Homo sapiens: one gene and its partners. The protein of the gene in region 3 purifies or fractionates together with the protein of the main gene of each other region. This does not show direct contact. Each region holds a gene or a part of one and is shown on either strand. Other genes may lie near its edges.

Region 1 (3,071 bases), on a different chromosome or scaffold from region 3:
TCCCAAAGCCTTTTCTAAGGAGGGAGCACGGGCGGGAATCTGCAGCTGGAGCAGTCACAGGGTTTCCAACCACGACAAACACGCCTGCACCCCGCACGCACAGCCGGGCCCCAATGAGGGTTTCCATCAGCCCTTCCCTGGGAAAACTCTGCAGGCTTCTGGAAACATCCACACGGCTCTGGAGGACCTGGCTGTGGTCCCTGCCATGGCGCCGCTGGCACTCCCACGGCTGGTACGCAGCACCATGGCTGCTTTTACCCAGAAACGAGCAGCAGACTCACCGGGCGCCTCCCTCACAGCTGCCACCACGCTGGAGAAGGGCACTTTCCAACCAAAGCCACCACAGCAACTGTTAATGTCACCAAGGTTTCCCACTGCCAAGAGCAACGGTAAAATCTGTGCTCTTTTAACGGATGCCAGAAAATCTTTCACAACTGAGTCAAGAAAGGGGCTTAAAAACAGCGAGCGAATCTGAGGGCACCCAGGTTGATGGCCGTCCAACCAAAACAGTGCCGTGCGCCTGGGCACAAGTGAGGGATCCTTCCGAAAGCTTGCAATTATTACCACGCGGTTTTGAAGTAATTCATTTCATTAAGTGTTTTGTGAAGGACATAACCCCCCGGGACACACGAGAATGCCTCCGTTGGGACTGGAATCGCTGCCCACAAACAAACGGAGAAACAGTCAAAGGTGGCCTAAGACCTGGGAAATCAGGAGCAGTGGTCCACATACAAAATCAGGGCCAAAACGTTTTACTTTCCATTTGAATTTACAACCATATACAGACAATATGGTAAGATTTTAGAGAAAACAGATCATCACTACGAATATCCATATTCTGATTTCTTTTGAGAACCAAGGTGCCTTTTAAAATGCGGCTTTTTAGAATAGCATGTGTTGTTTCTGTCTGGGATCTAGATCTTGTCTGCTACAAAACAAATGAACACACCCTGTGTAACAAAATCGAATTTTAACATTTAAATCTTGATTCCAATATTCCTGACCTATCTCTTGTCATATGAAAGAAAGAAGCCTTTTTTTAAAACAAAGTTTCAATTCAGAATTTTTACAAACAAAAACAATCCTGCGTCTACTTAATATCCCTGTATATCCTCAAAAAGCAAGTTCAGGAAATTTAAAAATGATTTATAAAAGGCACTGAAGTTAGCAAAAGCATTGGTGGGTTTTCATTTTGGATTAAACACTGGAAATGTTCACAGAGAAACAACTGTGTGAGCAGTTGCCCGTAACACCCAGGAAGAAACCGACCTCCAGGCAGCACCTCCTGAACACCTCAGCGGCTCCTCACACATTCCAACCACAGACCTTCATTCAAGTCAAGGTGAAGGCTACAGTCAGCACGGCAAGAAACCAAGATGGGACTCAAACCTCTAAATGCAACACTCTGCATACAGGAGATCCCAACTGAAATGAGTTCCAAAATAACGGATACCTTTATCGTATAATCATTTATGCTCAACAAAGCCTCAGGATAAATTTGAAAACAGAACAATGTATAGACTGTATTACTGCTGCACTGGCTCCTGAATGAAGCAGGCGGTGAAGGCTCACGTGCTGAGGAAACAGGGAACACCTTGGCGCCGCTGCTGAGCTCTGTGTTGCTCCTGGTATCACTCCCACGGGCTGCAAGACTTCCCAAGAGAAAAGCTACTTTCATCTTCTGATCAGTAATTTAAATATTCCGAACAACCCAAATCACAATGGTTGCTGCAAGTCTGAGGCGCGCTCCTGGCTCCCTGATCCCTGCCGTCCACCTCCCTCTGTCTGAACCATGAGACCCACGGGCGAACCAACAGGCACTCTGCCACCATCAGATGCCACCCCCCAACCCAGGAAAAGACAGGGCGGCAAATAGTTCATCTTGGTGAGTGCAGGTTATCAAAGGGACATCGGTGCTCACGCCTCCGCCAAGCCCCTCCTCATCCACAGCGTCTGTCGGATGAGGTGAGTACAGGGTAAGTACAGGGCTGCCTGCCTGCAACTGCCTCAGCGCCCTTTCCTCTGCTATATTTCAGACCTAGAAATTGCCACCTAAAAAGTCTACCATTACCACATGGATATTTTCCAGAAAATTGGTAACTGAGTTTGCTTTCATTAACTTCTAACTTCTTCCAAAATATCAGAAATCTAAGTGTTATATAGAACATTTAAATCTTCTAAAATTCTCACACCCTCAAAGTGAGGAGTAATAATTTAATCAGAATATATTCCTTTTTGACAGTTTAGCAATAAACATATGACCCTTCCTTCTTTAAAAATGAAGAACAAACCGAGAGCCCAGCGCCAAGCCTACAGGGCGGCAAGCTCAGCCAGGCGCGCCATCCTGCGGAGCTGGCTCCCGTGCACGGGGCTGTAGCGCCCAGGACTGCCCAGGCCTGGCTTTGCGGGGTTGCTTCCAGCCACGCTGTTTCTCCCCGGACTGTAGCTGTGAGGGCCACTGAGATCTGGCAGCTGAGACTTGAACCTTCCTTTCACCGCGGGACTGGGCCAACTGCGGAAAGCAAGAAAGAACTGTTAGCAGACGGGCACAGGCCCGGAGATGAACAGCAAAAGTCGGAGAATAATGGCCCCAGACTCAGGCACATGCGCCCGGGCGGAGGAGAGGCACTGGTGAACCCTGGCACCGCGGGCACACACGCCCGGGTGGAAGAGACGCACTGCTGAACCCTGGCACCGCGGGCACACGCGCCCGGGCGGAGGAGACACACTGCTGAACCCTGGCACCGTGGGCACATGCGTCTGGGTGGAGGAGAGGCACTGCTGAACCCTGGCACCGCGGGCACTGGGAGAGTCAAGCTCATGGGGGTTTCCCGGAGAATCCTGTGTGATCTGAGTAGAAACCCTGCTGCTTCCACCCTTCTAGCCCTCAGCTTGTCAGGAGCTGACCCGTTCAGCTTTTCCACCCAACCAGAGCTCTGTCCTGTGTGCAGAGAGCCACAACACCCAAATCCACAGCCTGGCTGACGGGCCTGCCAGCGTTGGGAAAAGCCACTGATAGGTTCGCATGAAGTGGAACTGGACCCTGCAGAAGTTTCCAAAAGCTGCCCTGC
Region 2 (3,656 bases), on a different chromosome or scaffold from region 3:
CTCAGCCTCCCGAGTAGCTGGGACTACAGGCACCCGCCACTGCGCCCAGCTAATTTTTTGTATTTTTAGTAGAGACGGGGTTTCACCATGGTCTTGATCCCTGATCTCCTGATCCGCCCGCCTCGGCCTCCCAAAGTGCTGGGATTACAGGCGTGAGCCACCACGCACAGCCCTGAGAACTGGTAAGCTTTAATAAATAAAAAACACAAAGTAACATAGAGGATATTAACATAGGTTTGAAAAGATATTAACTAATGGTAGAAGAGGTCCAAATTTAATTCTCGATCCAGTAAATAATTAATTATGATTAGATTTCATGAATTTGATCATGATTTTAATTTAAGCAAGTCCTTTCTTTCCTAATTACAGATATATGTGGTCTACTAATTGTGCCAAAAAAAATTATTTTCATTTACCTGGAAATATGGTGACATAAAAGTGTTATCCACGACCAAAATAATGTCTCCATGCTTATGGACAATATGTGCACAGCCTTCAATGTCAATCACCTTCTGGGTGGGGTTTGTGGGGGTTTCGATCCAAACAAGCTAAAATAATTCAGCAAATAACAGTAGTTTGTAAAAATATACTTTACAAACATACATCTCATATATTGTAACAATCTGGGAAGCTACATTGTATAATGGAAACACATGGATGATGATGTTGGGAGGTTCAAATCTGAATCCCAGCCTTACCTGCAAATTTCTGAAGCCGTAGGTATGTAATGTATCCTATTGATCTGTATAATTGGGTTGGTAATACCTATCTTACAGAATTTTTTGTAAAGATCAAGTGAGATAACGTACATGTAAACAGAAAAGTACTAAAGTTAATTATTGTACTTTTCTTAAAAAAGAAAGTGTATTCCAAAGACAGCTCAGTGTCTGGAAATTTTGTCTCAGAGATGAATAACATAGATTGTGTAAGAATACATCCTAGAATTTTAATGAAAGAGAATTATCCCTATGATGCCAAAAATATATTTAATATGAACTTAATGCCAGAAACTCTAGAAACTATAGAATAAGTATCTAAGACTTGAAGAGCATGGGCTTTAGACTAAAGAAGAAAAGTGACACCCACAACAGAAAACGTGGTTACCGCCTACTTAAAAAGTAACAATGACCTTTATATCTCAAAACCTACCACAATTCAGACACATGGTAGATGCTTGATAGTTATCAAAAAGACCAAAGAAAAGAATTCTATTTGTTGAACGAAATGCCATTGTACTGAATTACTTTCTTTTTTTTTTTTAAGCAGCAGGGTCTCACTTTGTTGCCCAGGCTAGAGTGCAGTGGCATGATCACAGCTAACGGCAGCTTCGACCTTTCAGGCCCAAGTGATCCTCCTACCTCAGCCTCTCCAGTAGTTGGAACTACAGGCATGTGCCACCATGCTCGGCCAATTATTATTATTATTTTTTTTTTTTTGCAGAGAAAGGGTCTCGCTATATATCTTGAACTCCTGGTTCAAGTGATCCTCCTGCCTCAGCCTCCCAAAGTGCTGGTATTACAGGCATGAGCCACTGTGCCCAGCTGATTCTTTTTTTATTACCTGTTATTTAAATGGGCAAGAGATCTGGTTTAAACTCTTCTGACTTTAGAGTTTTACTCTGGAAAAGATAAGATGGTTAAATAATACATATTCTACAAAAATCTTGAATTATTTAAAGAATCTATAAAAATTATTCCTGGTAAGAATTTATTATTCCTACTGATAATAAAAAAAATAAAAATTACCAAATAAATAAAAAGTAGGTTTTACATGGACTTAAACATTCTACTTCAAGTGAAAAACCTGATATTTTAGGAAGGAAAAGGTATTAATTCAAGTTGGTAGAGTCACTATATAAAATTCTGTTGACAAGACTTACTGTACTCATAATTTGCTTTCCTCCCTTAGAAAGATTCAGACCAGGGCCCGGCACGGTGGCTCATGCCTGTAATCGCAGCACTTTGGGAGGCTGAGGCAGGCGGATCACAAGGTCAGGAGTTCAAGATCAGCCTGGCCAACAAGGTGAAACCCCATCTCTACTAAAAATACAAAAATTAGCTGAGCATGGTGATGGGCGCCTGTAATCCCAGCTACTCGGTAGGCTGAGGCAGGAGAATCATTTGAACCCAAGAGGCAGAGCTTGCAGTGAGCTGGGATTGCGCCATTGCACTACAGCCTGGGTGACAGGGTGAGACTCCGTCTCAAAAAAAAAAAAAAAAAAAAGACTCAGACCAGCTATTTTAATGTGACTTTTCTCCCAAGCAAGATAAAAAACAAGTTCTTCTGGAAACAAACCTTAATTACCAAAAGCTCAACCATGTTAATGTGCAAAGTAATTATTTGTACATGAAAAGATATTTATTTTTTAGCATTCATTGCAACATAATCTTGGGTACAATTCTAACCTTTTAATCATTAGCAAAAAGTTGTAAACAGCTGACTTATAAAAGACACTGGTCCTTCTTTTATCCACACAGAATTTAAATAAGGTCCCAAGAAAGAATATCACATATGCCATTCACTCAGACACAAAACACCTTCCGGTGGCATACAAATTTCCCAGGATGGAAGCTAAAGATTGCTTGTGGCCTATTCTCCACATCTAACTAGTATCTGGGCAGCATCCCTTACAGCCCGGCAAAGCCACTGTGCTTCGAGTTTGGGGGTTTGGCAGGCTTCTTTTTCTATAGTCCAATCTCTGTGATGACTTCTGTTACCAATACTCTTTTGGCTATGCAGTTAAAAATTAGGTGCTCCTGCATAGAAATTTTTTTAACAATTACCATGTATCCAGGAACTATACTAAGCATTTCATATTCATTATCTCATTTGATTCTCACACTCCCGTTTCTATAAAACCGGTATAATTATCTCCATTTTGCAAATGAAGAAACTGAGACTTTGGTTAAATAATTTGCCCAAGATAATATACTAACTAAGATAACAGAATCACAATTTGAATTCTACTCCAGAAATCATGTACTACCATTATGCTATAACACCCCGGAGATGACAGTCTATCTTAATTTTGTTGATGTTTCCAATGGCATAAAATAAAATTTGTTATTCACATTAAATTATATCCTCTAGTAAACAGAAATGATGAAAACAAAACATCGAAGGAAAAACAGGCAAAACTGAAAATGAGCTGAGTTACCTTGGTTTCTGGTGTAATTGCTGCCTCTAGTAATTTGATTTTGGAACAATCAACAAAAGAAATCTTTAATCCAAATTCAGATGCCACTTGCCTGAAGTACCTGTTTGTACCTGAGACAGAAGGGAATCAGATAAAATGAAAAGAACATTGCATTAAGAAACATTCATTCCTTCTATGTATAAACACTTACAAAATATATGGAACTCTCAGTCACCAAGGAAAATGCAACTAAAAGCAATTCTAGTTTGGTTAAATAGTTTGGCTATCTGATATAGTAAAGAATAATAAGGTTTGTTCTCTAAAGGCTCAAGAGTCAAATAAAACACACTTGAGATCCAAAAGTAGCATGAAGCAAATAATGTTTTTCAAAACATCCAATCTCCACTAAGTGACATGCTTCCTGAAACATCATATCTTTTCAAACAATTTCTACCTAGTTCTCAACTCTAAACTAAATGAATCAATGTCAATGAAAGGTTCAAAATAAATTTCAATATAC
Region 3 (3,656 bases):
TTTATTTCATCAGGGTTGTTGAAGGCTAACATGTCTCATTTATTTTAGAAGTAGACAAGAGGGCCAGGTGCAGTGGCTCACACCTGTAATCTCAGCGTTTTAGGAGGCTGAGGCAGGAAGATTGCTTGAGCCCAGGAATTTGAGACCAACCTGAGCAACATAGTGAGACACTGTCTGTAATTTTTAAAGAAATAGAAAATTTTAAAAATTAAAAAAAAATTTTTTTAAGTAGACAAGGGCGGTCCAATTTTACCAAACAGTTTAAGGGAAGAGGAGGTAGGAAAACCTAATTTCAGAGGTGACTTACAATCCCATTAGAGGGAAATTCAAGTGTTTGAGGTCTGGAGGGTAAAGAAGACGTGGTTAGAAAGGATACAGTTGTCAAGCTGAGGAGAGAACCTAAGCAGTCGGAGGCCATTGGAGATACTGGAACAACAAAAGCGTGATTTATATTTGAGTTTTTAGAACCAATGTGGAAGAGACATGGAGCAGGTGTACCAGCTGTGCCTTTGTAAGATCTGAAATGAGGGATGATAAGAACCTGAACTAGAGCAGAGTGTGATACTGGAGGGGAAGGAGAGTTCATGTAACACTGATTCCCCACATAGGGACGAAAACCATATTATTTTCACTGTGTTGTACTTTACTAAAGGATAACCATTTACAGTAGCAGCCATTTGGATATTTATATATTCTTAGGATCATGCTTTTTCACATAGACGTCATGAATCTCCCAGCCCAGAGGTTCACAAAGGCACAGAATGTTTCACTGGGGATGTCAGTTTTAATCAGAAGCAAATAATTTAAAACAATACTTTTGTAATAAACATGACAATATTTACCTAAAATTTTAGGCCCTAAAATGAGGCTTCAAAGAAGTTTTGTGTTTGGGCCATATCCTCAGTCCCTTCTGGGCAAAAGATTACCCTCTTCCACTGTTAGTAATACAGAAAATAGGAAAGCCAAAGACAAGTGTTACAGAGATGAAGATGTAACCTTTTGGGTGTGACAGACATATATATACAAACACACACATAGACACACAGATAATGTCAAAGTTTGTCCCAAGTGCATCTGAGGAGAGGTATCTGATCTTGCTCTTGGGCAGCCAGGGTACCTACTAGAAAAAGCTTTTGAGATGAGACAGTACCAGAGTAAGTCGACCAGATATGGAAGGAGATATTCTTAGGCATGATGGATTGAATTAAGGAGGCCTGAAATTTTGGGGCATGTTGGCAGCTGTGCCAGTTCCGTATGGTTGGAATGCAGAGTTTGGAGTGAGACTGGATCATAGAAGATCTTAAAAAAATTTAATTGCTGCTGTCCACAGAGGATGTGTGAAATAGTTTGTAGTAATTATTTCTCGTTAGAAAATGGTGGAGTGGAGCTCGATATGCTTTTCTTTTCTTTTTAATGTTTTTTAAAAATAGAGACTAGATCTCTATGTTTGCCTAGGCTTGGCTTAAATTCCCAGGCTCAAGTGGTCCTTTCACCTCAGCCACCCAAGTAACTGACATTACAGGTCCATACCACTACACCCAGCTCAGTATGCTTTTTCATGTTAAGGTTTTCCCATTCTTGGCAAAACCAGCTATTTGGTTTACCTGTACTTTATATTAGAGGTTGAATATTTTGATGTTCATAGGTGAGACAGATAATACAGATGAGTGAGGAGGCCTAGTGTGTCACACAGGAGATTGTTGACATCTAGAGGTTACTGACATCTAGAGTTAACCTTTTCAACTAAAACCATTCACCATGTTCTTTTTTTTTGTTTGTTTTTTTAAACATAGTTTGCCAAACAAAACATCTGTGGCCTGATTCCAAGGGCTACAAGTTTGCAATCTCTGATTTAAATTTCTTGGAGATTAGCACCATCTTATTTCCATTACATGTTAATACATTCTTCTTGTCATACACAAGCAATATTTAATTATAACACTGGAAATCTAAGATAGGCAAAGAAAAGGAATGAGGACCAAATTAGCCATAAACCTGGAAGGGTAGAAGTGTAGAATCTTATTTCTCATTTTTCTTTTCCATGTGCTGTGATAATCTACTTTCTATTTTTCAAGTCTTCATTTAGCAAATATGGAGTTCAAAGTGATGTGCTATATATATTTTTTTTAAAAATTACTAATTTGTAAGCATCACTGATTTTAAAGAAAATGCTATTTGTGCTATACAAAAATATATTTTTTAATTAAGAGTTAATTATCTTGGGATCCCTAAAGGGTTTTTGTTTCACCTCTGTCCAACAAGAGTAAAATTGTTAAAAGATGTGTTGCCAGTTCAAGCTTAAGACATGCATTTGAAGCTGTCTGCAAAACCTCATATATGGCAGTAGGGGGCACTCGTGCTAACTTAGCCAAAACTCTGAAATAAACCCAGAGCTTTTAATGTGCCAGAAAAATTAAAGTTTTTATTTTTTATTTTTTATTTTTTATTTTTTTATTTTGAGATGGAGTCTCGCTCTGTCACCCAGGCTAGAGTGCAGTGGCACGATCTTGCCTCATTGCAACCTCCACCTCCCGGGTTCAAGTGATTTTCCCACCTCACTCAGCCTCCCAAGTAGCTGGGACTACAGGCGCGCACCACTGCGCCTGGCTAATTTTTGTATTTGTAGTAGAGACAGGGTTTCACCAGTTAGCCAGGCTGGTCTCAAACTTCTGACCTCAGGTGATCCACCTGCCCCAGCCTCCCAAAGTGCTGGGATTGCAGGCGTGAGCCACCACGCCTGGCCTTAAGCTTTGATTTATTATCTTTAATATTTTTACAACTAGTTTATTAGAAGTAACTAATTGTACTTCAAACCTGTGGGTTTCTGCTTTGTTTTCATATAAAGATCAGTTTTTCTTAATAGTACTTGTCTTTCAGACAATTGGTGTGACCTTTGCAGCCATGGTTGGAGCTGGAATGCTGGTACGATCAATACCATATGACCAGAGCCCAGGCCCAAAGCATCTTGCTTGGTTGCTACATTCTGGTATGTTCTGTTTTAAATTGTTACGAGACAACCTTGACTACCACCTTTTTTGGGTGGCTCTTCACAGTTGTAAATGACCTACATGGAATTTAAGCCTCATGTTTAGAAAACACCATTTTCTTCAGTCATTACTGGCTGCATTATTGCCAGACCTTTGCTTTGAAAAGTTGATTTTGCTAAGACCATGGACATCTTCAATACGAAACTTGTATCTTCTGACAGTCTAGTATATGCAGAGATTTACTTTTGTGTATTTTGTTCGATACCAGGAGGGTTTTATATCTAGTACGCATCATTTGAGAGTTGTTTTTGTCTGGTATGTTTAGAAAAATTAAAAACTGAGGATAGAGAAAGTTGTGCTAAAAATGTTGCTGCGAAATAACAAAAAACTGAGAGGAGTCCTAATAGAAGTGTTCTGTGTAGAAATTTCACCCACTGTTTTGCCTAGAGCAAAAAGTATTTTTAAATTATTCATCATCATGAGATAGTATACCTTATTAACCATATAACTTGATCTAGAAATGTTATTCTTTAAGCTAGTATTGAAAATTCAGTATAAAGATAGCTTTGTGCCTAGTCTATGAGGTAAACGACATTTAAGAAAAAGGTAACTTATTCTTCTTAGCACTGAAATAATGCATTATCTAAGTTTTTTTTCAATTAAGGAGTT

What was found.
Region 1: the proteins of GHITM (region 3) and ANKLE2 purify together in Homo sapiens (affinity purification with mass spectrometry; 2 studies listed by BioGRID and IntAct, with this or other methods). This does not show direct contact.
Region 2: the proteins of GHITM (region 3) and CTH purify together in Homo sapiens (affinity purification with mass spectrometry; 2 studies listed by BioGRID and IntAct, with this or other methods). This does not show direct contact.

The regions. Positions count from the first base shown.
Region 1 is NC_000012.12:132,724,932-132,728,002, forward strand, and holds the end of ANKLE2 (ankyrin repeat and LEM domain-containing protein 2), read right to left. Parts: intron 2,513-3,071; coding exon 2,311-2,512; 3' UTR 572-2,310; downstream 1-571. UniProt on the Homo sapiens protein: Involved in mitotic nuclear envelope reassembly by promoting dephosphorylation of BAF/BANF1 during mitotic exit.
Region 2 is NC_000001.11:70,421,177-70,424,832, reverse strand, and holds part of CTH (cystathionine gamma-lyase), read right to left. Parts: intron 3,268-3,656; coding exon 3,158-3,267; intron 1,700-3,157; exon of another isoform or gene 1,561-1,699; intron 549-1,560; coding exon 417-548; intron 1-416. UniProt on the Homo sapiens protein: Catalyzes the last step in the trans-sulfuration pathway from L-methionine to L-cysteine in a pyridoxal-5'-phosphate (PLP)-dependent manner, which consists on cleaving the L,L-cystathionine molecule into L-cysteine, ammonia and 2-oxobutanoate.
Region 3 is NC_000010.11:84,145,853-84,149,508, forward strand, and holds part of GHITM (growth hormone-inducible transmembrane protein), read left to right. Parts: intron 1-2,877; coding exon 2,878-2,986; intron 2,987-3,656. UniProt on the Homo sapiens protein: Plays an important role in maintenance of mitochondrial morphology and in mediating either calcium or potassium/proton antiport. Mediates proton-dependent calcium efflux from mitochondrion.